7 linked regions of the Homo sapiens genome follow. The protein of the gene in region 1 purifies or fractionates together with the protein of each later gene. This does not show direct contact. Each region holds a gene or a part of one and is shown in the gene's direction. Other genes may lie near its edges.

Region 1 (3,500 bases):
GCTTGAACCCAGGAGGCAGAGGCTGCAGTGAGCCGAGATCAAGGCATTGCAGTGCAGCCTGGGTAACAGAGCAAGACTTTGTCTAAACAAAAACAAAAACAAAAAATTCTTTTTCTCAGAATAGCTACATTCATCTCATCATTATATAAAAGACTTACTAAAAATTAAAGCCTTGGATTTGACTCTAGGTAAAGTGCATGGAGAATAAACATGAATCATTATTTGTTTTAGTATACTATTAGTATAATAATTGAAACAGACTACTCATATTCCTGCTTATGTGACATACTTGTTTTTGTTTTGTTTTGTTTTTTTGAGACAGCTTCTTGCTCTGTCACCCAGGCTGGAGTGTAGTGGCATGATCATGGCTCACTGCAACCTCTACCTCCTGGGCTTAAGCAGTCCTCCCATTTCAGCCCCTCAAGTATGTGGGACTACAGGCAAGTGCCCTCATGTCCGGCTAATTTTTTAAATTTTTTGTAGAGACGAGATTTCGCTGTGTGACCTAGGCTGATCTTGGTCTCCTTGGGCTCAAGTGATCCTCCTACCTCAGCATCCCAAAGTGCTGGGGTTATAGGCATGAGCCACCATGCCAGGCCTGACATACTTGTTTAATTAAGAGAAGTAGGCAACAAAATAACTTATTAATATAATACATAGATGATTGAAGGGAATTTGTTTTGTTGACTGCTCTATTTTTATACTGCCTAATAAAAGCATCTGGGATCTTTGTTTAATAACTTATTTTTTCTTTTTCAGAGCTATCCATTTTTTATTTTGCCCTTAAAAAAATTCCTTTTTTTTTTTTTTTTTTTTTGCCACAAGCATTTAACTGTGAGGTATTTAGGAAAACCTAGTTTTTTTTTTCTTCTAGAAACTTTTTGTCTCTGGGTGCTTTCCAGTTACTTTGTGCCATTTAGAGCAATGCCAGGCATTCATTTAATATTTTCATAAACATGGCTTTTTTTTCATATTTAAACATTTGAACTTTATTTTGATGAGTGAAGGGTTAAAAGAGATACACTACCTTTCTCCTTATTTAAGACCTCGCCTCTCTCACCCAGAAAATAATCATTAATACTGTATTTAAAATTCTGAACATCCTGTTTGAGGCAAAATATTTGCAGAGTACTGCTTCTTTTGTATGTTTTTCCAGAGATACTCTGTATATGCAAGCATGATTATTGTCTCTTATCTGCATAGGAATAGATATTAAAAGTATTATTACTGTAATATATTCATCATATTCTTAACTTTATGTTTAGACCCCTCGGAGACAGAAAAAACTCTTTTGCCGCTACCATGATGGAAACCGTAATCCTAAATTTATTCTGGCTCCAGCTAAACAGGAGGATGAATGGGACAAGCCTCGTATTATTCGCTTCCATGATATTATTTCTGATGCAGAAATTGAAATCGTCAAAGACCTAGCAAAACCAAGGGTAAATAATGTTTTCTTTCTTTCTCCTCAATTTACTGTACCTTTGTATCAATTTTTCTTTGTAAAAAAATAGGATAATTGATATACGAATAATGCCACAGATTTTTTAAAGATATTTTGCCTCAGCATAATGGAGTTACTAATGATGCTGTGTTTATGCCAGTTTTTCCATTTGTTATCAACACAAGTAATGTACCCTTAACTGGGTTTTAAGCACTGAATTATGAAAATTATTGTGAGATTTTTATTCACCATTAACAAATTTGTGTTTCACTGTCTTCCTGATAAACTTTTCTCTGTATTTTGGAGTCTTTTAATCTCAGAGGCTACTCAAAGCCCAGCTTTTTCACTTCTGTATTTTTACTGAAAGAATACCGTGGAAGTATTTTTATTCCCTTTTAGGCACATTGTTACTATTATAAAAAGATATAATTGGGCACAAGTATTATGTTAATTTGAAATGGTGATAGTTTTCTGACTTTAACCCACAGAATTTATCTTAAAAAGAAAAAGAATCTAACGTAAACCCAATCTATAAGCTTAGTGTTGAGCATAAAAACTCTTTAGTGAGAATGTGGAAAAGACTACCCTTTATGCTCTTGCCTTTTCCCCCATCAGCTTGTTCTTAAAACATATTTGGTCTTCTTGATAGTAAAATACAAGCTGCCATCACTTTCATAAAGAGATTGTTGAATAAATTCTAGGCATGCTTTGCTGTCTTACACAGGAGTTGGCAGATTTTTTCCATAAAGGTCAATATTAGATATTTTTTAGGCTTTGGAGGCCATATGATCTCTGTCATGACTATTTAGTTCTGCCATTATAGTGCAAAAGCAGCCAAAGAAAATATGTAAATGAAAGAGTGTGGCTATATTACAGTAAAATTTTATTTCCAGTGGCAGGTAGCAGGCTGAATTTGGTCTGTGGCCATAGTTTGTTGACCCTTATTATATCAAAGGTTTGAATTATCTGGATATCTATACTACAAAATGAAGTTAGAATTTCTTTTAGAGTTTTTCTGCTTCTCCAAATTGGTGGTTTTTTTTTTTTTTGGCCAAAGATTACATTATAAATGCAAAAGACTGGTCTAACATTAATATATATTATTGGTGCCATCCAAGGTAATTAATTCATTTCAACTTGGAGATCAAGTTATATTCTGGAGATTCCTCAATTTGGATTGTTTTTGATCAATAAATTTAATGGCAATAAAATTTCATGCTCTCACAACCTCAGAATCATCGTTCCATTAAAAAAAATTGAAATTATTATCTAGGCGGTCACCTCTTTCTTGCTGTTTTTAACATTTATGAGCTCTTTTCCTCTGCCTTTGTTCTCAGTCCAAGATTATTTCACTGTATATGTTAATGAGAGTGGCTATCTTGAAGGGACAAAAGATTGACCTTAAAATGAATTTTAAACATTAACCTGTGCAAACAGTTCCATCACTAAAAAAAATTAAAGTCAAAGGTTTTGGAATGGATCATTAATTGCAAATAGGCATTCTTCTTTTTTTCCCCTTCTCTCCCCACCCCCAGATGGCTATTTTAACTGTAAATTAGACTTCAAATTTTAGATATGTCTCTTTTTCTTACTGTCATGTCCTTTCACCATTGAAAGAAATTTAATTTCCAATCTCTTTTGTTTGTATGTCCTCCATCTATGCAAAACAAAAAATTGAAGAAAAAAAAAAAACCCCAAAAACCTAAAAAACTAACTGGCTTTCAAGGCTCAGCACAAGGTGACTGGAAGTGTATGGAGTTATTTTCTCTTTTTAGCCTCCTTTGTAAAAACCCTGGAATTCTGACTGGTTGGGTAAATGTGATTCAGTTTTTTGTTTTGTAATGCAACTATTTTGATGGTTGGCTTCACAGCTGAGGCGAGCCACCATTTCAAACCCAATAACAGGAGACTTGGAGACGGTACATTACAGAATTAGCAAAAGGTAAGAGATGTGTATGCTGCATATTTTGCCCTCTAATGAGTGTTTTATACATCTTACAGGAATTATTCATTTAAGGAAAGTGGGTCATTTTCAGTCACCAGCTCAAGTCACCAC
Region 2 (3,261 bases), on another chromosome or scaffold:
TTTCCAAATGCGAGTTGAATTTGTAATGTCTTCTTTCAGGATCCACTGAAAGATGGTGAGGCAAAGATCAAAAGCGACTATGCACAACTTCTTGAAGACATGCAGAATGCATTCCGTAGCCTTGAAGATTAGAAGCCTTGAAGATTACAACTGTGATTTCCTTTTCCTCAGCAAGCTCCTATGTGTATATTTTCCTGAATTTCTCATCTCAAACCCTTTGCTTCTTTATTGTGCAGCTTTGAGACTAGTGCCTATGTGTGTTATTTGTTTCCCTGTTTTTTTGGTAGGTCTTATATAAAACAAACATTCCTTTGTTCTAGTGTTGTGAAGGGCCTCCCTCTTCCTTTATCTGAAGTGGTGAATATAGTAAATATACATTCTGGTTACACTACTGTAAACTTGTATGTAGGGTGATGACCCTCTTTGTCCTAGGTGTACCCTTTCCTCATCTCTATTAAATTGTAAACAGGACTACTGCATGTACTCTCTTTGCAGTGAATTTGGAATGGAAGGCCAGGTTTCTATAACTTTTGAACAGGTACTTTGTGAAATGACTCAATTTCTATTGTGGTAAGCTCATTGGCAGCTTAGCATTTTGCAAAGGAATTGCTTTGCAGGAAATATTTAATTTTCAAAAACATAATGATTAATGTTCCAATTATGCATCACTTCCCCCAGTATAAATCAGGAATGTTTGTGAGAAACCATTGGGAACTATACTCTTTTTATTTTTATTTTTTATTTTTTTTATTATTTTTTTTTTGGGGACGGAGTGTCCCTCTTGTTGCCCAGGCTGGAGTGCAATGGCGTGATCTTGGCTCACTGCAGCCTTCGCCTCCCGGGTTCAAGTGATTCTCCTGCCTCAGCCTCCCGAGTAGCTGGGATTACAGGCATGCTCCACCATGCCCAGCTAATTTTGTATTTTTAGTAGAAACGGGGTTTCACCATATTGGTCAGGCTGGTCTCGAACTCCAGACCTCAGGTGATCCGCCCACCTCGGCCTCCCAAACTGCTGGGATTACAGGCGTGAGCCACCGCGCCTGGCCAGGGACTATACTCTTTTTAAAATAGACATTTGTGGGGCTCACACAATATATGAAATAGTACCCTCTAAAAAAGAGAAAAAAAAAATCAGGCGGTCAAACTTAGAGCAACATTGTCTTATTAAAGCATAGTTTATTTCACTAGAAAAAATTTAATATCAAGGACTATTACATACTTCATTACTAGGAAGTTCTTTTTAAAATGACACTTAAAACAATCACTGAAAACTTGATCCACATCACACCCTGTTTATTTTCCTTAAACATCTTGGAAGCCTAAGCTTCTGAGAATCATGTGGCAAGTGTGATGGGCAGTAAAATACCAGAGAAGATGTTTAGTAGCAATTAAAGGCTGTTTGCACCTTTAAGGACCAGCTGGGCTGTAGTGATTCCTGGGGCCAGAGTGGCATTATGTTTTTACAAAATAATGACATATGTCACATGTTTGCATGTTTGTTTGCTTGTTGAATTTTTGAACAGCCAGTTGACCAATCATAGAAAGTATTACTTTCTTTCATATGGTTTTTGGTTCACTGGCTTAAGAGGTTTCTCAGAATATCTATGGCCACAGCAGCATACCAGTTTCCATCCTAATAGGAATGAAATTAATTTTGTATCTACTGATAACAGAATCTGGGTCACATGAAAAAAAATCATTTTATCCGTCTTTTAAGTATATGTTTAAAATAATAATTTATGTGTCTGCATATTGCAGAACAGCTCTGAGAGCAACAGTTTCCCATTAACTCTTTCTGACCAATAGTGCTGGCACCGTTGCTTCCTCTTTGGGAAGAGGAAAGGGTGTGTGAACATGGCTAACAATCTTCAAATACCCAAATTGTGATAGCATAAATAAAGTATTTATTTTATGCCTCAGTATATTATTATTTAATTTTTTAGGTAATGCCTATCTCTTGGTCTATTAAGGAAAGAAGCAATCAGTAGAGAATTCAGGATAGTTTTGTTTAAATTCTTGCAGATTACATGTTTTTACAGTGGCCTGCTATTGAGGAAAGGTATTCTTCTATACAACTTGTTTTAACCTTTGAGAACATTGACAGAAATTATGCAATGGTTTGTTGAGATACGGACTTGATGGTGCTGTTTAATCAGTTTGCTTCCAAAGTGGCCTACTCAAGAGGCCCTAAGACTGGTAGAAATTAAAAGGATTTCAAAAACTTTCTATTCCTTTCTTAAACCTACCAGCAAACTAGGATTGTGATAGCAATGAATGGTATGATGAAGAAAGTTTGACCAAATTTGTTTTTTTGTTGTTGTTGTTGTTTTGAATTTGAAATCATTCTTATTCCCTTTAAGAATGTTTATGTATGAGTGTGAAGATGCTAGCGAACCTATGCTCAGATATTCATCGTAAGTCTCCCTTCACCTGTTACAGAGTTTCAGATCGGTCACTGATAGTATGTATTTCTTTAGTAAGAATGTGTTAAAATTACAATGATCTTTTAAAAAGATGATGCAGTTCTGTATTTATTGTGCTGTGTCTGGTCCTAAGTGGAGCCAATTAAACAAGTTTCATATGTATTTTTCCAGTGTTGAATCTCACACACTGTACTTTGAAAATTTCCTTCCATCCTGAATAACGAATAGAAGAGGCCATATATATTGCCTCCTTATCCTTGAGATTTCACTACCTTTATGTTAAAAGTTGTGTATAATTGTTAAAATCTGTGAAAGAATAAAAAGTGGATTTAAATTAACATTTTTTTCTTTTTCTCTTTTTTATGGCACAATCTGCTAGAAAATATGTACCTTGTATCTTGACTTAATGTTTTGGTATGACCTTTTAAAATTTTTTCCTTCCTTTTTTATAGATTGTTACTTAAGATTATGAAATTGAATTGGAGCCCTCATTATAGCCTGCAAAAAGTCCCATAACTGTATCACACTATGTTTTGGAAATATAATCTACAGAATCCCATCCCATTCTGAATTTTACTTTGAGAAAGTGAATGGTTTCTATAAATTCACTTCTAAGTGCAAGGAAATCAGTGGTACTCTTCAGTTTTTAACAAGTAAACTAAAGCCTTGTAATTTATGATTTTGCAAGCCAATTTAAAGTCCAATATAACAATGTGCAACATCCTTTGTAGCAATTCATTATGGTACGTAGGATATATTTTATTTCCTTAAATGTTGTATTTTTAACAATTTCCAAAGGAGTGAAGAAGCAGTGTCAAAGAACTGTATATTACCATTG
Region 3 (3,500 bases), on another chromosome or scaffold:
AACCCGGCCCCATTCTTCCTTCACATCTGAATAGCTTCATTGATGAGAACCCCTCGGGATTACCTATAGGGGAGGCTTTAGGTAAGTTCTATTACTGCCAGATGTGAAAATTCAGAGATTACTTAACATGACTTGGACTGTATAATATCATTTTGGGTTAAGATTGAATTGTTTCTTCAAATAATGCTAGCAAAACCCCCCCATTTAGTGTGATAATCAGAAACTAGTTCTAAATGCTGTATGATAGTATCCAGTGGATGTCAGGATCATCATTATGTAAGTGAGGAAGAGTTGTCATCATCATCACCATAACTGATTTCTGGCAAATTTAGAAAACATTTACTTCTTACCAAAACCAAATTTGTAGCTACGTCCTTTGTCTTTGTGGAGAAAATATGTTAGTAAAAAACTTTAAATAATGAACTTGAAACCCCAAATTCATAAAAAATTTTTCACAAATATTTTTGCAGATCGTATACATGGGAGTGTCGCTCTGGAAACATTAAGGCAGCAGCAGGCACGGTTCCAGCAGTGGAGCGAGCATCATGCCTTTCTCAGTCAGGGCAGCGCTCCATACCCACACCATCACCATCCTCACCTCCAGCATCTTCCTCAGCCGCCCCTGGGATTACATCAGCCGCCAGTGAGGGCAGACTGGAAGCTCACCAGCAGTGCCGAAGATGAAGTGGAGACCACATACTCAAGGTATTCCAGCGGACTGAAAATAGCCCCTGGAATGCGACCCCCTCACTGTTCTCTTTTTTGACTGTAGTCCTTTTAGCTTCAAGCTGGAATATTGCCTCAGAGAAATTGGATGCTGGCCTTCCAAGCACACGCTACACAGTTCTCTTGTTGACTCTAAAATACAGAAAACTCATTTAGAAGTAACTCTTCTACAAATTTAGGCATGGATGATCTACTATGGGTTGGAAATTAACTTGTTCCCTTACTTTGTGGTCTTTTCTGCGAGAGAAACATACCATCACTGTGAGCAGCTTTTTTTATTTAGTAGTAATACTTGCAAAGAATGAATAAAGACAGGAGTAAATTCGTGGTTAAAAGCTAAAAATTATATCATTAATTATTTTTATGGTGGCACAGAATTCTACATTCCTATAATTCCAGCTACATATGAGTATTTGGTCCTAACTCTAAGCTTGTTTTTGTGGCCAGTGTCACATGAATGCTCTGAAGTGTTTCCTAATCCCTTCTGAATAAGGTCCACCATCATGGTGACCTTTTATAACTTCCAGTTGTCAAAGCTGTATAGAGACAAGGACAGATGTTTTTAATACAATGGGAACAGAAAGAAATCAGGTAATTGAGCATATTTAATTTCTTCACCTCAGCATCTATTGAGTGTTAATGCTTACATCTGAGATGAATTAATGCCAGTTCTAGTTATTAGTACTATGATTTTGTTTGTTGAAAATACATGTGTAGTTGACTAAGCTTTCCTTAATGTGATGGAGCCTTTTGTTTTCTCCTCATATTTTATTGTTTTCATGTAGGTTTCAAGACTTAATCAGAGAACTGTCTCATCGTGATCAAAGTGAAACACGGGAACTAGCTGAAATGCCACCACCTCAATCAAGACTTTTGCAATATAGACAAGTACAGAGTAGAAGCCCACCAGCAGTCCCATCTCCCCCATCCAGTACAGACCACAGTAGCCACTTTTCTAACTTTAATGATAACAGCAGAGACATTGAAGTAGCCAGCAACCCAGCATTTCCACAGCGCCTCCCACCCCAGATATTCAACTCACCTTTCTCGTTGCCATCTGAACACCTTGCCCCTCCTCCCTTGAAATACCTGGCACCTGATGGAGCATGGACTTTTGCTAACTTGCAACAGAATCACCTAATGGGGCCAGGTTTTCCCTATGGCCTACCTCCATTGCCTCACAGGCCACCGCAGAACCCTTTTGTACAAATACAGAATCATCAACATGCTATTGGTCAAGAGCCATTTCACCCATTGTCATCTCGAACAGTATCTTCTTCTTCGCTCCCTAGCTTAGAAGAGGTAAATGTCTTCTTATTTTCCTTTTGTTATTAGCTGATTGTGAAAAATATCAGTATTTATTGATTTGATAATAGGAAGGCACAGATCTTATTGAATTTAACAGCGTATTAAAGATAATCCTTTCTTGGGAATTATTTTAATTGCCACCCTCCTATTGTATTTCAGGTTTTGTAAAGTGGACACTTTTGTTGAAACATGAAGCCCCTTAAAAGTCTTTTATTGCTGTTTAAAGAAAATATTGAATATCTGAGGACTCTATTCAAGGAGCTTTGTCTTTTTTTAATCTGAGGAAATGGCTTTTAGTGATTCTTCTTTTCGCTTTAAGTTACATGTGTTAATTATAAATTTGTTAATGAGAACTTTCCAAAGATGCTGGCTTTTCAGCCAGTGCCAGCTCCAAGTGCTGTGCTCCTTCTCCTGCCACTCAGCCTGGTGCTTTGTTAGACCCAGGGACTCTGATTCCCAAATATCAGAATTTGCAGATTTTTAACATAAAATTGACTGTGCTAAACTAAGCATTTTAAGTTAAACTGAATTTTATCTTAAAATACTTAGATATTTCTGCCGGGTGCAGTGGCTCACGCTTGTAATCCCAGCACTTGGGGAGGCCGAGGCGGGCAGATCACGAGGTCAGGAGATCGAGACCATCCTGGCTAACACGGTGAAACCCCGTCTCTACTAAAAATAGAAAAAATTAGCTGGGCGTGGTGGCGGGCGCCTGTAGTCCCAGCTACTCGGGAGGCTGAGGCAGGAGAATGGCGTGAACCCGGGAGGCTGAGCTTGCAGTGAGCCAAGATATGCCACTGCACTCCAGCGTGGGCGACAGAGCAAGACTCTGTCTCAAAAAAAAAAATAAATAAATAAAGTAAAATACTTAGATATTTCTAAAGAGCATCTTTATGGACTTTTTTTTCCTATGAAAAACTTAGTAATTCCAGGTTATAAAACTTCCAAAGCAGTACCATGTGGTGTAGGCTACAAAAATGTCTAGCTGATCCCATTAAATTTGCAGTGATTAAAGATAAAAATGTGTAAAGCCGGTTGTAGTCATATCAGACAGAGACATCTTAAATCAGGATAAAGATTTCTAATTTTGATATATGAAAAATACTTTTTTGATATTAGCTTCATTTTGGCAGTTTCAGAATGATATCTAAAGGCCATTAGAAATAATTGATTCACATTTTACAAGTTGCCTGCTATAGATGCTAATTAAAAGTCAAGATTCATAGGGAAAGCTGTATGTCTTATTTGTAGGGATTTAGAGGCAGTCTGTTCAAATTGTCCCAGTATTCATTGATTGGCTCATTCTGTATAGCTGTCATTAAAACAACTTACTGTGATTTTAGGCTCTTAAAGTAAGTTAGAAGCACAATAAAGATGAATTGGTATCTACATATATGTATTGTGAGGATCTAGAATTTTGGAACCATACTTTACAAAAATTTGGCACACATCTGACAGTCTTTCAG
Region 4 (4,260 bases), on another chromosome or scaffold:
GAGAATAGCTTGAACCCAGGAGGCGGAGGTTGCAGTGAGTTGAGATTGTGCCACTGCATTCCAGCCTGGGCGACAGAGCTAGACTGTCTCAAAGAAAAAAAAAAAAAAAAAAGAAATAAATAAAAAGTAAAATGAAAGCATGTAAGTGTAAGATGACTAGTTCAAGCAACCTCTCTTCAAGTACAGAGTATTCAGAGTAGAGATTAAAAGAGGTTTTCAAGGACAGAGAAAATTTGAAGTTTGAAGGCAGTTCCAAAGGAAGGCAATGATTCTTAATAAGACTGGAAGTTGGAAGTAATATAAAAAGATAAATCAGTTTCAAGATGATTTTACTAAGCAGGCAGCCCTTAATTTACAAATTCTAGATTCATACATATCTTAAACATACAAAATGATATGAGGAGAGGTAAGTTCAGGGTCTGAGTTCCTGGCTGTTGTTGGAACTGATTTCTGTGTAGTGATTCAGAAGATGTGAGACACCCTAATTTACAAGTACAGAGGTATCTTCTTTTCTGCAAACAGCAGTACAACAATAGTTCCTCTTACGCAGCTGTGAATGAACAGGATTATTACAATTAATGATATCTCATTTGATTGGCGCCTTAGAGAATTAAGACCTTTCACACCTAATATACAACTTTGTTGTGAAGGCAGATATTTATATTCTCATTTTACTGATGAGAGACTACCCGGAGACGCTATGTCACACCTGAAGGATTAGGTACTTTCTCTGTTAAGTCCAATGTTCCTTCCGTTATTCCATGCTAGGCAGTAATAAGTTCTGTCTTGCCTGAGTAATAAGCTCCAAACCTCGGAACTGCACCCATCTTGAGAAGGAGGAGGGCGCTGTGGTTTTTTCTGATAAGTGCAGCTGGCAGACACTCTATACGCTTAATCACGGGCAAATCCTAGCTAAGCTGCCTACCAAACTAGTCCTTCTTTTCCCCGTTGCCCACGCAGATGGCTGTTGATCTTTTCTGCAACAAATCCAGGAGTTTCTCCTTTTTGTTTTATAATTGCTCCAATAGATGCTTTAGGATTTAACTCTCTGCTTTTTAAAGCAGAATCGCCATCCCAGGTGTGCAACCACGAAAAAATTAGACATCCGTGAGAGACAATGCCCTCCATGGCCCAGTTTCCAGGCAGAGAGAAGCAGCTCTGGGCTGACCGCCAAGGCTCCGGCCCGAGAGGGTCTTTAAGTGGAGTAACCAGTCTTCAAGACCCCGCTCCCAAGCCACCGACGCGCTGACGCTGCAGCCCTGGACCTGCTGGGGGCCTCTTCCTCGGACCCGCATGCTGACAGCGGGACTGGCAACTGGGCAGAGGTCGACCCCGGGTCCGCACAGCACCTCCCGAGACCCAGCTCCCAGCTCCCTCACTTCCGGCTCTCTGGAGGCGGGCCCGGCCAGTGCCGCCGAGGCCAGCGCGGCGAGCTCCTCCCCAGCAGCGGCGGGACGGCCACACCCTGCGCTCCGCGCGGGCTCGGGTGGGGTCTCCGCTCCTGCGCCCTGCGCCCTGCGCGCCGCAGCCGCAACCCCGACGGCGCCCCAAACGCTGTTGCGCCGCGCGCCCCGCCCAGCCCGGCCTCGCGCTGGTCCCGGTCTCGCCCCGCAGCCCTCGATCTCCCGTGACTTCCTCGGCCAGGCCGCCTGCGCCTCTGGGACCATGTTGCGCTGGCTGCGGGACTTCGTGCTGCCCACCGCGGCCTGCCAGGACGCGGAGCAGCCGACGCGCTACGAGACCCTCTTCCAGGCACTGGACCGCAATGGGGACGGAGTGGTGGACATCGGCGAGCTGCAGGAGGGGCTCAGGAACCTGGGCATCCCTCTGGGCCAGGACGCCGAGGAGGTGGGTCGCCGCCGGGGCGCCGCCTGAGCGTAGGGAGGGCTGCGGGCGCTGGGGACACTGCGAGGACCGAGGAGGGCGGCGGCTTGAGGCGTTGCCAGGAGAGGAAGGAGGAACTGTGGCGCCCAGCGCTCCGGTGGCTTCAGAAACTCGGGCGTGGGGCCGCGACCGGCGACCCCGGTAACAGAAGTGGGTCATAATACGAAAGTCTACTGGTATTTGTCCAGATAAAATGAGTGTTGTGGACACTCTGGCCCACGGGCACTGTTAAATTTTTAAGACACTTTTGTCCTGAATCCATCCCAGGTTCTTTGTTTTCTGTTTTAATACCTTGCAGACATGTAATCCGTTTTAGCTGTCAGACTTCAGTGGGTCCCAAGTTTTGTATAAAGGCGCACACATTCGATCTCTTTCGAAGCTGCTTTGTTACAGCAGCTATGTGTATTGTCTACTGTTTGAAAACTGTTTGAAAACCAATCGCGTGTTTCCCCCACTTCCTGTTGAGAAGGAATGGCGGCATTCCATTGTTTAAGACATTCCTAGGTTAATGCCCTAGGTACATAAATTGATCTGAAGGGTTGACTTGACCTGCGACTGAGCAATTTCATTTTCTCTGAGTCATCTTAACTGTGCCCCTGAACTTCTGCCCCTTTAGTAGGGTGGAGATATGTGGAACTTCTCCAACCCTGTTGAAGCGTTCCCTGACACTGGCATTCTCTTATCCAAAGAGGGAAAGTGATTAGGTTACTATGAGGGCCAACAACTGTTATATAGTTATATTTCACTTCTCTTTTAATGTCTTTGGTAGTTATAGGCCTCTTCAGTTTACTGTTTCTTCTAGAGTCAGATTTAGTAAGTTACAATTTTTTTTGAAACTGCCTGTTCTGTCCAAGGTTCATAATACTCACCGATGATTTTATAACACTTCTGACTGAATCTGTAGGTAGGTTCTCTATTTCATTCCTCATATCTATCCTTTTCTCCCCTTCAATCTTGCCAAAGTTTTGTGTATTTTATTCATACTTTGAAGGAACCAACTTTTGGTACTTTGTGCTGATTGTCCCAGAAATGGCCCAGTTGGAGTTCCCCACCATGTCCAATCATTGGCTGGAAGCAGCCCAGGAAAGGGACGACCTTGCTGCAGTGCATCAGCAGATGCCAGGGTTAGAGGCTAGAGAGTGGAAGTCAACTGTGTTCCTCACAGTAGGTGCCTTTGAAGGGAGATCTCAGTGGTACAACTCCATGGTCCCTACAATATACAAAAGCTCTTTGGAGTGCTCAATGATTTTTAAGATTGTAAAGGGATCCTGAGATCAAAAAGCTTGAGAATTGCTGCTGTATCACCATTTTTACGTAACTGCATCATATTCTGTTATATGTTTGTGTCATAGTATATGTTACCAATTCTTTTTAAATCACCTTTTACTTTATTGATAGTTTAAAAACGATTGTAAGTGAAATTGCAATGGATGTCCTTTGTATTCATTTTCTCATTCTGGTCCAGTTACTTTCGTAAGATAAATTTTGAGGAGTGGACATTGCTGAGTCTGAAGGTAACACACATTTTAAACTGGGATACGTATTGCCTTTCGGAAACCTTAGACCCATTTTCACTCTTTTGACTGACAGTGCTTGCTTCTCCACATCCTCGCTCATTCAGGGTATCAGTCTTTGTAAAGTCTCCTATTCTGCAGGTGAAATTCCTTTTCATTTCCTGTCTTAGTCCATTTAGTGTTGCTATAGTGGAATATCTGAGACAGGGTAATTTATAAAGAAAAGACATTTATTTAGCTCACAGTTCCGCAGGCTGGGAAGTTTAAGAAGCGTGGTGCTGGCATCTGCTGGACTCCTGGGGAGGGCTTTCCTGCTGTGTCACAACATGGTGGAAAGTCAAAGTGGAAGTGGACATGTGTGAAGAAGCAAAATCCGAGGGGTGTCCTGGCTTTATAGCAACCCAGCCTCGAGGGAACTGATCCATTACTGAGGGAACTAATTCAGTCTCATGAGAGAGAGAACTCACTCACTACTGCAAGAATGACACCAAGCCATTCATGAGGGATCTGCCTCCGTAACCCTGACACCTCCTGCTAGGTCCCTCCTCCCAACACGGCCACATCAGGGATCAGACTTCAACATGAGTTTTTGTGGGGACAAACAAAACGTAGCACTTGCTTTGCCTTTTGGTTCTATTCACATCCTCCACAGGATTGCATTATGCCTACCCATTTGGTGAGGGCAGTCTTCTTTAATTGGTTTACTGATTCAAATGCTACCCTCCTCCAGAGACATCCTCACAGACACACCCAGAAATCATGTTTTACCAGTTATCTGGGCATCCCTTAGTCCAGACGAGTTGATACATAAAATTAACCATCACACATGGGATAGAATTAGGATTACACAGTCAACCTTTAT
Region 5 (3,500 bases), on another chromosome or scaffold:
AACTAACAGAAGAGTTGGAAGAATAGTTCAAAGAACTCCTATGTACTTTTTATTCTGATTCACCCATTTTTAACATTTTGTCACATTTGCTTTATTCCTCCCTTCCTGCCTCCCAGCCCCTCATGTATTATTTTCGGAGCCATTTAGTGTTATTCACAGATATGCACTTCTCCGCACTTCTCTGCTCAAGAACAAGTTAAGTACCCGCAATATTAACTAATTCTGGACATTGAACATTTATATAGTATTGAAAATTCATACTCAAATTTCTCTAGTTGTCTCAGTAACATCTCACAGAATTTTTCTTTCTCTAATCCAGTATCCAATCTAGATATTTCTTTTCTTTTTTTATTTATTTTTTGAGACAGAGTCTCGCTCTGTCTCCCAGGCTGGGATGATCTTGGCTCACTGCAAGCTCCGCCTCCCGGGTTCACGCCATTCTCCTGCCTCAACCTCCCGAGTAGCTGGGACTACAGGCGCCCGCCACCATGCCTGGCTAATTTTTTGTATTTTTAGTAGAGACAGGGTTTCACCGTGTTAGCCAGGATGGTCTCGATCTCCTGACCTTGTGATCCACCCTCCTCGGCCTCCCAAAGTGCTGGGATTACGGGTGTGAGCCACCGCACCCGGTCCCAATCTAGATATTTCGTATCTCTTTAGTCTTTAAGCAGGAGCAGGTATTTGGCCCTTATTGCTTTTGGTCTTTTTTTTTTTTTTTTTTTTTGAGACTGGGTCTCACTTCGTTGCCCAGGCTAGAGTGCAGTGGCAAGATCATAGCTGCCTGCAGCCTGGAACTCCTGGGCTCAAGTGATTCTCCTACCTCAGTCTCCCAAGCACCTGGCACTAACCCCAGTTAATTTGAGGGCTCCTTTGCTTTTTTGGCAAAACAATAACCCAAGTCCTTCTTGTCTTTTCCTTTCCTTTTGTATCTTCCCATTTCTCCAAGGAGTCCCAGTTCTTTTGGTAGAAAATATTATTTATAAACCAGGATTTGGATGCTTGGTGGTGTATGCATTTGCTTGTATGCCCTTTTCAGTGGACAGAGCTAGAAAACATGATATTAAAAATCATCAGCTTACATTGGTATTTTATTTTATTTATTTTTTGAGACAGTCTCCCTCTGTCACCTAGGCTGGAGTGCAGTTGTGCAATCTTGGCTCATTGCAACCTCTGCCTCCTGGGTTGAAGCGATTCTTGTGCCTCAGCCTCCCGAGCAGCTAGGATTACAGGCGTCTGGCTAATTTTTGTATTTTTAGTAGAGATGGGGTTTTACCATATTGGCCAGGCTGGTCTCGAACCCCTGGCCTTAAGTGATCCGCTCACTTTGGCCTCTCAAAGTGTTGGGATTACAGACGTGAGCCACTGTGCCTGGCCTACATTGGTATTTTAAATTCCTAATCAAAGTTAACATTAGTGGCATTTTCTACACAGAAAACAGAGTCAGATTTATAATGCCAGTATTTTACTAACAATAACCCTACCAAGTGCAGTTTTTTTTCCAGTCCTTTTTTTTCTTAGCGTATACTGCATTAAAGATGAACTTTCTTCAAAAGTTACTTGAAATAACATTTTTCAGCTTGTTTGTTGAATTTGTTTATTTTGATTATCAAATTTCACAGTTTTTGTTTGTATTCATTATTAGGGTTTGCTTTTTCTCCCTCTTAATTTAGTTTTTTTGTTTGTTTGTTTTTGAGACAAGATCTCAATCTGTTACCTAGGCTGGAGTGTAGTGGTGCAGTTTTGGCTCCCTGTAGCCTCAACCTCGCAGGTTTGGGTGATCCTCCCACCTCAGCCTCCCAAGTAGCTGGAACGACAAGTGCGCACCACCATGCCTGGCTAATTTTTTGTGTTTTTTGGTATAGTCTGGGTTTTGCCATGTTGCCCAGTCTGGGCTCGAACTCCTGGGGTCATCGGTTCCTCCCTCCTCAGCCTCCCAAAATACTAGGATTACAAGGCATGAGCCACTGCACCCAGACGTAATTTAGTTTTTTTAATACGTTATTTACATGGTTTAAAATCTACTGAAAAAAAATTTTTAAGCACCTGTGACCAAGAAGGAATAAAATTAAATACTATATTGAAAAAGTACTGGCTGGGCGTGGTGGCTCACATCTGTAATCCCAGCACTTTGGGAGGCCGAGGGGGGCAGATCACCTGGGGTCAGGAGTTTGAGACCAGCCTGGCCAACATGGTGAAACCCCATCTCTACTAAAAATACAAAAATTAGCCAGGCGTGGTGGCACATGCCTGTAATCCCAGCTACTCTGAAGGATGAGGCAGGAGAATTGCTTGCACCCAGGAGACGGAGGCTGAAGAAAAAGTAGTTAAGTCTTGCTTCTGTCTCTGAGCTCTGGAGTTCATTCCAGTTTTTACTGTGTATATTCTTATTTTCACATTCTTAGAAGAAAGTTGGCATGCTGTATATGCTTGTGACACTTGATTTTTTTTTTTATAAATTGTGATAAATGCATAGCAAAATTTTACTGTCTTAATTTTTTTTTTTTGAGTCGGAGTCTTGCTCTCTCCTCCAGGCTGGAGTGCAGTGGCGTGATCTCAGCTCACTCCTGGGTTCAAGTGATTCTCCTGCCTCAGCCTCCTGAGTAGCTGGGACTACAGGTGCATGCCACCACACCTGGCTAATTTTTGTATTTTTAGTAGAGACGGGGTTTTACCATGTTGGCCAGGGTGGTCTGGAATTCCTGACCTCAAGTGATCTGCCTGCCTCAGCCTCCCAAAGTGCTGGGATTACAAGCAGGAGCCACTGTGCCTGGCCTTAACCATTTTTTTTGAGATGGAGTCTCACTGTATCACCCAGGCAGGAGTGCAGTGGCACGATCTCGGCTCACTGCAGCATCCGTCTCCTGGGTTCAAACAATTATCCTGCCTCAGTCTCCCGAGTAGCTGGCACTACAGGTGTGCACCACCACGCCCAGCTAATTTTTTGTATTTTTAGTAGAGATGGGATTTCACCATGTTGGCTAGGCTGGTCTTGAACTCCTAACCTCAAGTGATGCACATGCCTCCGCTCCACAAAGTCCTGAGATAGGCATGAACCACTGCACCTGGCTCATAATGTAATTCTGTTTTTAACATTTTTGAAGAACCTCTATACTGTTTTTCATAGTGATTGTACTGTTTTTTTTTTTTTTGTTGTGTGTTTTTTGTTTGTTTGTTTGTTTTTTAGAGACAGAGTCTCACTGTGTTGCTCAGGCTGGTCTTCGCCTCAAAGTGATCCTCCCACCATGGCCTCCCAAAGTGCTAGGATTACAGGTGTGAGCCACCATGCCCAGCCTCATTGTACCATTTTACAGTCAGTACACAATGGTTCCAATTTCTTCATGTTCTTACCAACAGTTATTATTTTCTGTGTCTGTGTGTGTTTTTCCTCTGAGAAAAGGTCTCCTTCTGTTACCCCTGCTGGAGTACAGTGGTATAATCATAGCTCACTGTGCCTCAACGTCCCGGGCTCAAGCAAACCTCCTGCCTTAGCCTCCCGAGCG
Region 6 (3,500 bases), on another chromosome or scaffold:
CACATTTTTTGTTTGTTTTACCTCCAGTGGCATCTCTTTTAATTTGTTTATGTCTTGATTGCTCATCCTGGTTTACCATGTTCTCATATGCTTATATAAGCCATTTTTTAAATTACCTGTTGATATTATTTGCTCATTTTTCTATTACATTATCTTTTTCTTGATTACAGTAGTTTGCTAATGTACTTGTTTTTGGTTTTCAAAAAAAAGCATGTGCATATTGCTTAAGAAGTTAGCTAATGTTAAACTGCTTGTAACAAAAAGTACCACCTCCACCTCCCTTCAAATATTTTAGCTCTTTCTTCTGGTATTTTCCACCATGTGTTTAACAGTAGATCTATGTTGCTTTCTTTCTTTCTCTGTTAGCTGTAGACATTATGTATCTGTTACGGTAAGTGAGAATTTTAACCCACTTACACTTTGTTTTCTCATTCCTTATCTTTCCAATATAGCTACAGAATAGGTTTCAATAATCAGCTTCAGTATTTTTTTTTAATCATTGTAAATCCATAAATAAGGATGGGCACAGTGGCTTATACCTGTAATCCCAGCACTTTGGGAGGCTGAAGTGGGAGGAGCGCTTGAGCCTGGGAGGTTGAGGCTGCAGTGAGCTGTGATTGCACCACTGCACTCTAGCCTGAGTGACAGAGTGAGACCTTGTCTCAAAAACAAAAAACATTAGCTGGGCATGGTGGCGCATGCCTGTAGTTCTAGCTACTCGGGAGGCTGAGGCAAGAGAATCGCTTGAACCTGGGAGGTGGAGGTTGCAGTGAGCCAAGATCGATCGTGCCACTGCACTCCAGCCTGGATGACAGAGCAAGACCCTGTCTCAAAAAAAAAAAAAAAAGAGAGAGAGATCAAAAACCTATAAATATTTTTCATCATACTGTCTTTTCATTTTATAACCTTTTTGGTTTTTAATTGCTCCTCCCCTGCCCCTCATTTTTCCCGTTTGTCTAATTTTCTTTGAACATTTAAGGTTTTTTCATACTCTCCAGCAGCTTTGTAGAAGGCTTTAAATATAGCTTTCTATACAATCAGATCTGTTAAAAAATGTGTAAGTCCCATTTTTTCCTCTCCTTTGAGCTGTCTCCTGGAAACCTTCCTACTATAATCTGGACTGGTCTTCTAGTTCTGCTGTACAAGAGTTGTCTTGGGATTTTCTTATCATCATGGTTCTAGGAGATGTCTTTACCTCACTTCTGGGTGAGTTTATTATTAGATCTCACTCTTTTCTTGATTTCATGTCCAACTTTTAGAAGAGTGTGTCCTATAACTTCTTGTTAAAGGATGCTTGGATGAAAAAATAATTTTAAGGTTTGGTAAGCTGTAGAATTTGGAGTTGAAAATTATTTTCTCCATAGAGCTTTGAAGGCATTATTTATTCCTTTATAGCTTCTGCTATTGCTTTTGAGAAGTCCAATACCATTCTTGCAGAATAGATTCTCTTTCTATAATGTGTTTTTCCTCTGTGGAAGCTGTTAGGATGTTCTCTTTGGGTCTGATGTAAATGAAGTTTTATAAAAATGAGCTTTGATGTGGATTTTCTTTTTCTTATTGTGATTATTGGGTGATTGGGTGAGTCTTTTCATTCTGAGATTCTAATGTCCTTCTATTCTTAGAAATGTTATTATTATGGATATTCTTATTTTGACAGTTTCCTTGCCTTGATTTTCTCTGTTGTTTTTAATAGTTGGATGTTGGACCTCTTCTTTTAATTACTGAGTTTTTCTTTTCTTCTTCCTATTTTTCATATCTTAGACTTTGTCTGGCTTTTTGAGGTATTTCCTTGACCCTTGTATTGGATTTTTAACATCTTCCATCAGATTATTATTATTTTTTTTTTTGAGACAGAGTCTCCCTCTCTCCCCCAGGGTGGAGTGCAGTGGCTCGATCTCGGCTCACTGCAAGCTCCACCTCCTGGGTTCACGCCATTCTTCTGCACCAGCCTCCTGAGTAGCTGGGACTACAGGCACCTGCCACCACGCCTGACTAATTTTTTGTATTTTTAGTAGAGACAGGGTTTCACCGTGTTAGCCAGGATGATCTGCATCTCCTGACCTCGTGATCCGCCCGTCTTGGCCTCCCAAAGTGCTGGGATTACAGGCGTGAGCCACCACGCCCGGCCCAGATTCTTAATATCCAAGAATCTTTCTTGTTCTCTGAGTGTTCCTTTTTTTATACTCTCCAATTCTTGTTTCATGGCTGCATATCTTTTTGTTATTTCTTTGATGATACTAAGGATAGTTGAGATTTTCCTCTGTTCCCAGGACGGTTTCCTCTCAAATTTTTCTGTTTACCCATTTTCATCTCTGAGATATGTGATCTCTGGATTTTTGTTCCTATTACAGATTAGATATTAACAAGCTATATGAGCCAGGCACAGTGGATCACTTGAGGTCAGGAGTTCGAGACCAGTCTGGCCAACATGGTGAAACCCTGTCTCTACTTAAAATACAAAAAAATTAGCTGGGCATGCTGGCAGGAGTCTGTAATCCCAGCTTCTCAGGAGGCTGAGGTAGGAGAATTGCTTGAACCTGGAAGGCAGAAGTTGCAGTTAGCTGAGATCGTGACATTGCACTCCAGCCTGGGTGACAGAGCGAGACCCTGTCTCAAAAACAAACAAACAAACAAACAAACAAACAAAACAAAACACAAGCATATGGAAGCACTGTGTGTTTTGTATGGGGCATTGTCAGTTGGCCTATGGTGTTTCACAGTAGTGTAATCATGTGGCCACTCTTTTTGCTGGTGGATTCCCAGTGATAGTAACCTTATATCTTATTCCTGAGCCAAGCAGTTTGTTTAGAAAAGGATAATTTTATTTACTTGGGGAATGGACACCTAGCTTCTGAAATCCCCATAGCTGGGCGGGAAAGTTGAAGATTTCTCACGATTCATTAAGTATACCTTCTTCTAAACGTTCTGTCTTCATTTCATTACCTTCTTGTCTTCTTCCCCTTTTCTCCATACTTTTTTCAGTGTCTGGTTAATTTTCTGAATCATTTGGGGTTCTGTAGGGACAGTAACATCTATTTTATTCTTTTGAAAACCTTACACCAAATATGCACATGCATGCATGCACAGACACACATGCTCTTCAATCTTTTATTTCTATATTAAACATATTTCCTCCAATGTTGGTATGTTTTTAACTTTGTTTATGGTGTCTTTTATCATATGGAGTTTTATTTTTCCTTAATGTGCTTCTGTTTTAATTCTTACTGGTTCCTGAGTTTTGTGCCTATTTTACCAAAAATATATAAATCCTGTATTTTGTTCTAACTTTTCTATAGTTTTTTGCTTATTCATTTATCTGAATTTAATTTCTATCTGTCGTGAGATAGACATTAGCCTTTTATATACTCCCACTGTTGAATTAAAGTATCTCCTATATCATACACCAAATACTCACACACATTGATCTCTTTTTTGTTTTCTTGGCTCTGTACTGTTCATCCATTTTTCTGTTACCTGGCCAGTGCCAAACGTGTAATTAC
Region 7 (4,246 bases), on another chromosome or scaffold:
AGCTTCCGGGGGAAGGCGATTCCACTTTAGAGCTTTTCTTCCTTTCTAGCTGGGAGTTATCCTCCAAATTTTAACCTAATGATGTAAGCAAAATAAACACACTGAAGAGGTTGAGAAAAGAAAAACGGCTCACAACAGTCTGAGCTCTGTGAGGTCTGCAAAATGTATTAGGCCTAGAGGGACATGAGTATGGGACTTCGGTTATGCCCACCCTCTGCCCCCACATACACACATACCCAATCCCATGCATACCCAATTGTTTAAAGTCATTTCATTCCTGACTATCGGCCTCATCCATTACCTTTTTTTTTATTATTATTTTTTAGACAGGGTATATTCTGTCTCCCAAGCTGGAGTGCAGTGGTGCGATCATGACTCACTGCAGCCTCGACCTCCTGGGCTCAAGAGATCCTCCTGTCTCAGTCTTGACAGTAGGTGAGGCTACAGGTTCGCGCCACCAAGCCGGCCCCATTATCTTCGTGTTCTTAGAATTTGTAATACATGCCGGGCGCGGTGGCTCACGCCTGTAATCCCAGTACTTTGGGAGGCAAAGGGGGGCAGATCACCTGAGGTCAGGAGTTCGAGACCAGCCTGACCAACACGGAGAAACCCCGTCTCTATTAAAAATACAAAAGTTAGCTGGGCATTGGGGCGCGCGCCTGTAGTCCCAGGACTCCATCTCTAAAAAAGGAAAAAGAATTTGTCATACAAATAACAATATGTAGCCAATTGATAGCTTTTGTTTTTGTTTGTTTGTTTTGAGACGATGCGTCGCCCAGCTGGAGTGCAGTGGCGCGATCTCGGCTCACTGCAACCTCCGCCTCCGGGGTTCAAGCGATTCTCCCGCCTCAGCCTGCCGCGGACCTTGTCAGGGTCCGCGCTGAGAGGACGTCAGGGTAGTCAGTCCGCCAGAATACGGCTGAGCATGAGGCCTGCCTAACCTTGAAACCCAGCGCCCTCCTGATCCACACGTTCTAAGACGAATAAATCCTCACAGTCTGTGAAAACCCACCAGGAGAAGCACGTCCAACACTCTTTACCTCCCCAAACAAGTCTCAGAAGCGGGAAAACCAACGCCGCGAATGGGCGGGAAAGCCACAGCGCCTGCAATCGCTTCACCTTATTAGCTAATTTTGCTGTCCTTCCCAGTGGCCCGCCTCCCTTGCTCGCGGGCGATATTTTTATTGGCTTTCGTCTGCGAGGCGTCCAATCTCATTGGTTTGCCTTTCTGTTCGTCAGGCTTGGGCGCCTGGTGAAAGGCAGAGAGCGCGTCACTATTGGGGCTGGAGGCCCCGCCTCCGCGTGCCGTGTGCAAAAACAAACAGCCGTTAGGAAGGCGGTGCCGGGGGGGCGGGGTCTGGCTAGAAGGAGGCGCGCGATTGAACAGCCGCTGGGGTTCGAACCAGCAAGACAAGCGGGCATTGGCCACAGCAGCGCGAGGCGGGCACGGGGTATTGTCCGGCTCCGGCGGCGGCGGTCGGTGCTGCGAGAGCGGCGGCGGCGGCGCGGGTCGGCAGCGGGAGGGCGCGCGGCCGAGCGGAGGCGGAGTCGGCGCCGAGAACATGGTAAGGGCGGCCGGGTGGGCCGGGGGCACGGGGCCTGGGAGAGCAGAGCGCGGAGGCCCTGGCGTCGGCGCCGCTACCTGTGGAGTCGGGAGTTTGCGGGTGTCTGGGCTTCGTCCGGCCGAGCCCCTCGCCGCCCGCCGGGGGGCGCCATGTCCCAGCTGCGGAGCCCGACACGGGTCCCCGGGTGAGAGCTGGGCCTGGCCGGGTAGAGCGCGAAGTCTGTTCCGAGCCGGATAGATCTGTCCCGACGCTTGTGACGCTGCACCGCCCGTCTTAGAAGGAGGAGGACGGCAGAATCCGGCTTGGAAATGTAGAAACAAGTGCTGGATCTTAATGTGATCGCTTCTCTGTATGAATGAGGTCAAACAGGCTGCCGCTGTACAAGTTAGATAAGTCTTTGGCGATGTTTGGTTACGTAATCTCCCTGGCAGTCAGTTTGAGGGTTTCTGCGAAAGGGTGCTTGTATTTGTGGTCTTTTGAGCGACAAAGAATGGTTTTATAGACCAGAACCACACGATTTGTTCTAGGTGATTGCACAGGTTAGAAATGAACGCCCGTTATCTTCTGAGCCCCTTGCAGTTTGCGGTTTTCATTATACAACAGTACTTTCCTTTGCCCTTGCTATGGATTTTCAGTCTTAAAGTATTCATCTTTTCATTCTGAAATTCAGATCTAGATAAGAAGAGTGTGGCTTTAAAAAAATGAAAGTGAATAGAACTTCAGCCCCATTTTAAAGTTGAGGGGAAAAGAGAAGGTGCTAAAGGATACGCTCTGAGTTGCATCAAAGATTGTGTAAAAATAATAAGACTGTTATGGAATCTTATTTTTGCCGGTATTCGTGCTTTAAGCATTCTGTTGAAAGGTTACTTCAACGGGAGCTACCTGCTTAAAAGTTAGCACCAAGCTGTCATTTATCATACTGCAGATAGTATTAGATGATTTGTCTTGTGCTTGATGTGACAGATATGGTATTGAATAGACATAACACCTAACTGTAAACAGATTGGCCAGTCGAGAGGACAATGTTTGGTTATTGTAAAATACCCAAATCTTAGAGCTGGAATAGACTTTAGGGATAATTGCTTCCAACGTCTAACGTATAGTTTATTGTTATTGTAAAAAACCCAAATCTTAGAGCTGGAATAGACTTTAGGGATAATTGCTTCCAACGTCTCACGTATAGTTTATTGTTATTGTAAAGTACTTTATAGTACTTTATCAAACTGAGGTACAGCTTACATCTAATCTGTAAAAGGATTTGCTCAAACAGATGATTTTCATGATTCTAGTTTTTTGTGGTTTTTTTTTTTTTTGGTTTTTTGTTGTTTGTTTTTTGTGGTTTTTTGTGGTTTTTTTTTTTGAGACGGAGTCTCACTCTGTTGCCAGGCTGGAGTGCAATGGGCGATCTTCACTCACTGCAACCTCCGCCTCCCGGGTTCAAGCGATGCTCCTGCCTCAGCCTCCCGAATAGCTACAGGCGTGCGCCACCACGCCCTGCTAATTTTTTGTATTTTTAGTAGAGATTGGGTTTCACCATGTTGGCCAGGATGGTCTCGATCTCTTGACCTTGTGATCCGCCCCCCTCGGCCTGACAAAGTGCTGGGATTACAGGCGTGAGCCACCGCGCACGGCCAATTCTAGTTTTTCAGATATTTTTCAATCTCTAGTGATACGCTATATGTTTTATATCCACTTACCAGTAGCTAAAAATACATAAGTATTAACATAAGCTAAAAATGCAGGAGACATTGAGTTGTCGTTCTTGATAGATTTTAAACCTGAGAGGAAGTAAGCAGATGTCTGTTAAAACTGACATGAAAGTGTCTTAGTATCCAGTTTGCAAGTTTATCCAAGTAAAATGAACGAACTCCTACTTCCTCCTCTCTCTCTCTCTCTGTCTCTCTCTGTGTGTGTGTGTGTGTGTGTGTGTGTGTGTGTGTGTGTAATTTTTTAAAACCAACAACCTTAACTCAGGTTAATACGAAGTCAGTTCTTGGAATTAAAAAATTTAGATTTGGGTTCTCAAGCACCAATTATATTAAAATGAATGTTCAAAGTAGGGAGGCTATATATACAGTTTGAGGGGATATCGGAAAGAAAGTAATTATCCATTTATTGTATAGTTTTATATTCAGATAAGTTTGATACCATAAAAGTTTTCTTTTGTTAAGTATGAGAAATGTATCAGGAATCTCTAAATGTTGGAAATAGTCATTTAATGGATTGAGGCTTTTAAAACCTGACTGTATGTCTACTTCCTTAAAAAGCAAATAGAACACCAAATATGACATATCTGAAACAGTGAGGATAAAATTGCTTAAGCAGAGTAGTTATTATATGACCTGGGGAGCCTGGGGAATTTTGTAGTTGTTGGCTTTTTATTAGTGACTACTTCTTATTTTTTCCAATCCAGTCATAGGAAGACAGTGATTATAATTTTAGATGCCAGTTGAGAGGTTTTTAAGTGTTATATATTAGGGCAAATGGAGGTAACAAGGGTTTTTTATTTGAGAAGTAAGTAAGACTGTCTTGTTAGTGGAGCTGACCTCAAAAATCCAAAAATTGTATTTTTCTTATATAACAACATAGTCAAAAATTATTAAAATATGAGGCATTCTGGTAGAAATAGAGAGCGTCTCAGTTCTTACTGGTAAACTTAAATCAGTCTCTTGTTGAATTAC

The links.
Region 2: the proteins of P4HA1 (region 1) and ATP6V1A fractionate together in Homo sapiens (co-fractionation; one large-scale study listed by BioGRID). This does not show direct contact.
Region 3: the proteins of P4HA1 (region 1) and HELZ purify together in Homo sapiens (affinity purification with mass spectrometry; one large-scale study listed by BioGRID and IntAct). This does not show direct contact.
Region 4: the proteins of P4HA1 (region 1) and SLC25A24 fractionate together in Homo sapiens (co-fractionation; one large-scale study listed by BioGRID). This does not show direct contact.
Region 5: the proteins of P4HA1 (region 1) and WDR33 purify together in Homo sapiens (affinity purification with mass spectrometry; one large-scale study listed by BioGRID and IntAct). This does not show direct contact.
Region 6: the proteins of P4HA1 (region 1) and PRPF39 fractionate together in Homo sapiens (co-fractionation; one large-scale study listed by BioGRID). This does not show direct contact.
Region 7: the proteins of P4HA1 (region 1) and H2AZ2 fractionate together in Homo sapiens (co-fractionation; one large-scale study listed by BioGRID). This does not show direct contact.

What each region holds. Positions count from the first base shown.
Region 1 is NC_000010.11:73,044,867-73,048,366, reverse strand, and holds part of P4HA1 (prolyl 4-hydroxylase subunit alpha-1 isoform 2 precursor), read left to right. Parts: intron 1-1,265; coding exon 1,266-1,442; intron 1,443-3,315; coding exon 3,316-3,386; intron 3,387-3,500. UniProt on the Homo sapiens protein: Catalyzes the post-translational formation of 4-hydroxyproline in -Xaa-Pro-Gly- sequences in collagens and other proteins.
Region 2 is NC_000003.12:113,809,296-113,812,556, forward strand, and holds the end of ATP6V1A (V-type proton ATPase catalytic subunit A), read left to right. Parts: intron 1-39; coding exon 40-132; 3' UTR 133-2,761; downstream 2,762-3,261. UniProt on the Homo sapiens protein: Catalytic subunit of the V1 complex of vacuolar(H+)-ATPase (V-ATPase), a multisubunit enzyme composed of a peripheral complex (V1) that hydrolyzes ATP and a membrane integral complex (V0) that translocates protons.
Region 3 is NC_000017.11:67,105,697-67,109,196, reverse strand, and holds part of HELZ (probable helicase with zinc finger domain), read left to right. Parts: coding exon 1-81; intron 82-470; coding exon 471-705; intron 706-1,511; coding exon 1,512-2,028; intron 2,029-3,500. UniProt on the Homo sapiens protein: May act as a helicase that plays a role in RNA metabolism in multiple tissues and organs within the developing embryo.
Region 4 is NC_000001.11:108,197,544-108,201,803, reverse strand, and holds the start of SLC25A24 (mitochondrial adenyl nucleotide antiporter SLC25A24), read left to right. Parts: upstream 1-1,460; 5' UTR 1,461-1,665; coding exon 1,666-1,848; intron 1,849-4,260. UniProt on the Homo sapiens protein: Electroneutral antiporter that mediates the transport of adenyl nucleotides through the inner mitochondrial membrane. Originally identified as an ATP-magnesium/inorganic phosphate antiporter, it also acts as a broad specificity adenyl nucleotide antiporter.
Region 5 is NC_000002.12:127,801,172-127,804,671, reverse strand, and holds part of WDR33 (pre-mRNA 3' end processing protein WDR33), read left to right. Parts: intron 1-3,500. UniProt on the Homo sapiens protein: Essential for both cleavage and polyadenylation of pre-mRNA 3' ends.
Region 6 is NC_000014.9:45,097,616-45,101,115, forward strand, and holds part of PRPF39 (pre-mRNA-processing factor 39), read left to right. Parts: intron 1-3,500. UniProt on the Homo sapiens protein: Involved in pre-mRNA splicing.
Region 7 is NC_000007.14:44,845,288-44,849,533, reverse strand, and holds the start of H2AZ2 (histone H2A.V), read left to right. Parts: upstream 1-1,446; 5' UTR 1,447-1,562; coding exon 1,563-1,565; intron 1,566-4,246. UniProt on the Homo sapiens protein: Variant histone H2A which replaces conventional H2A in a subset of nucleosomes. Nucleosomes wrap and compact DNA into chromatin, limiting DNA accessibility to the cellular machineries which require DNA as a template.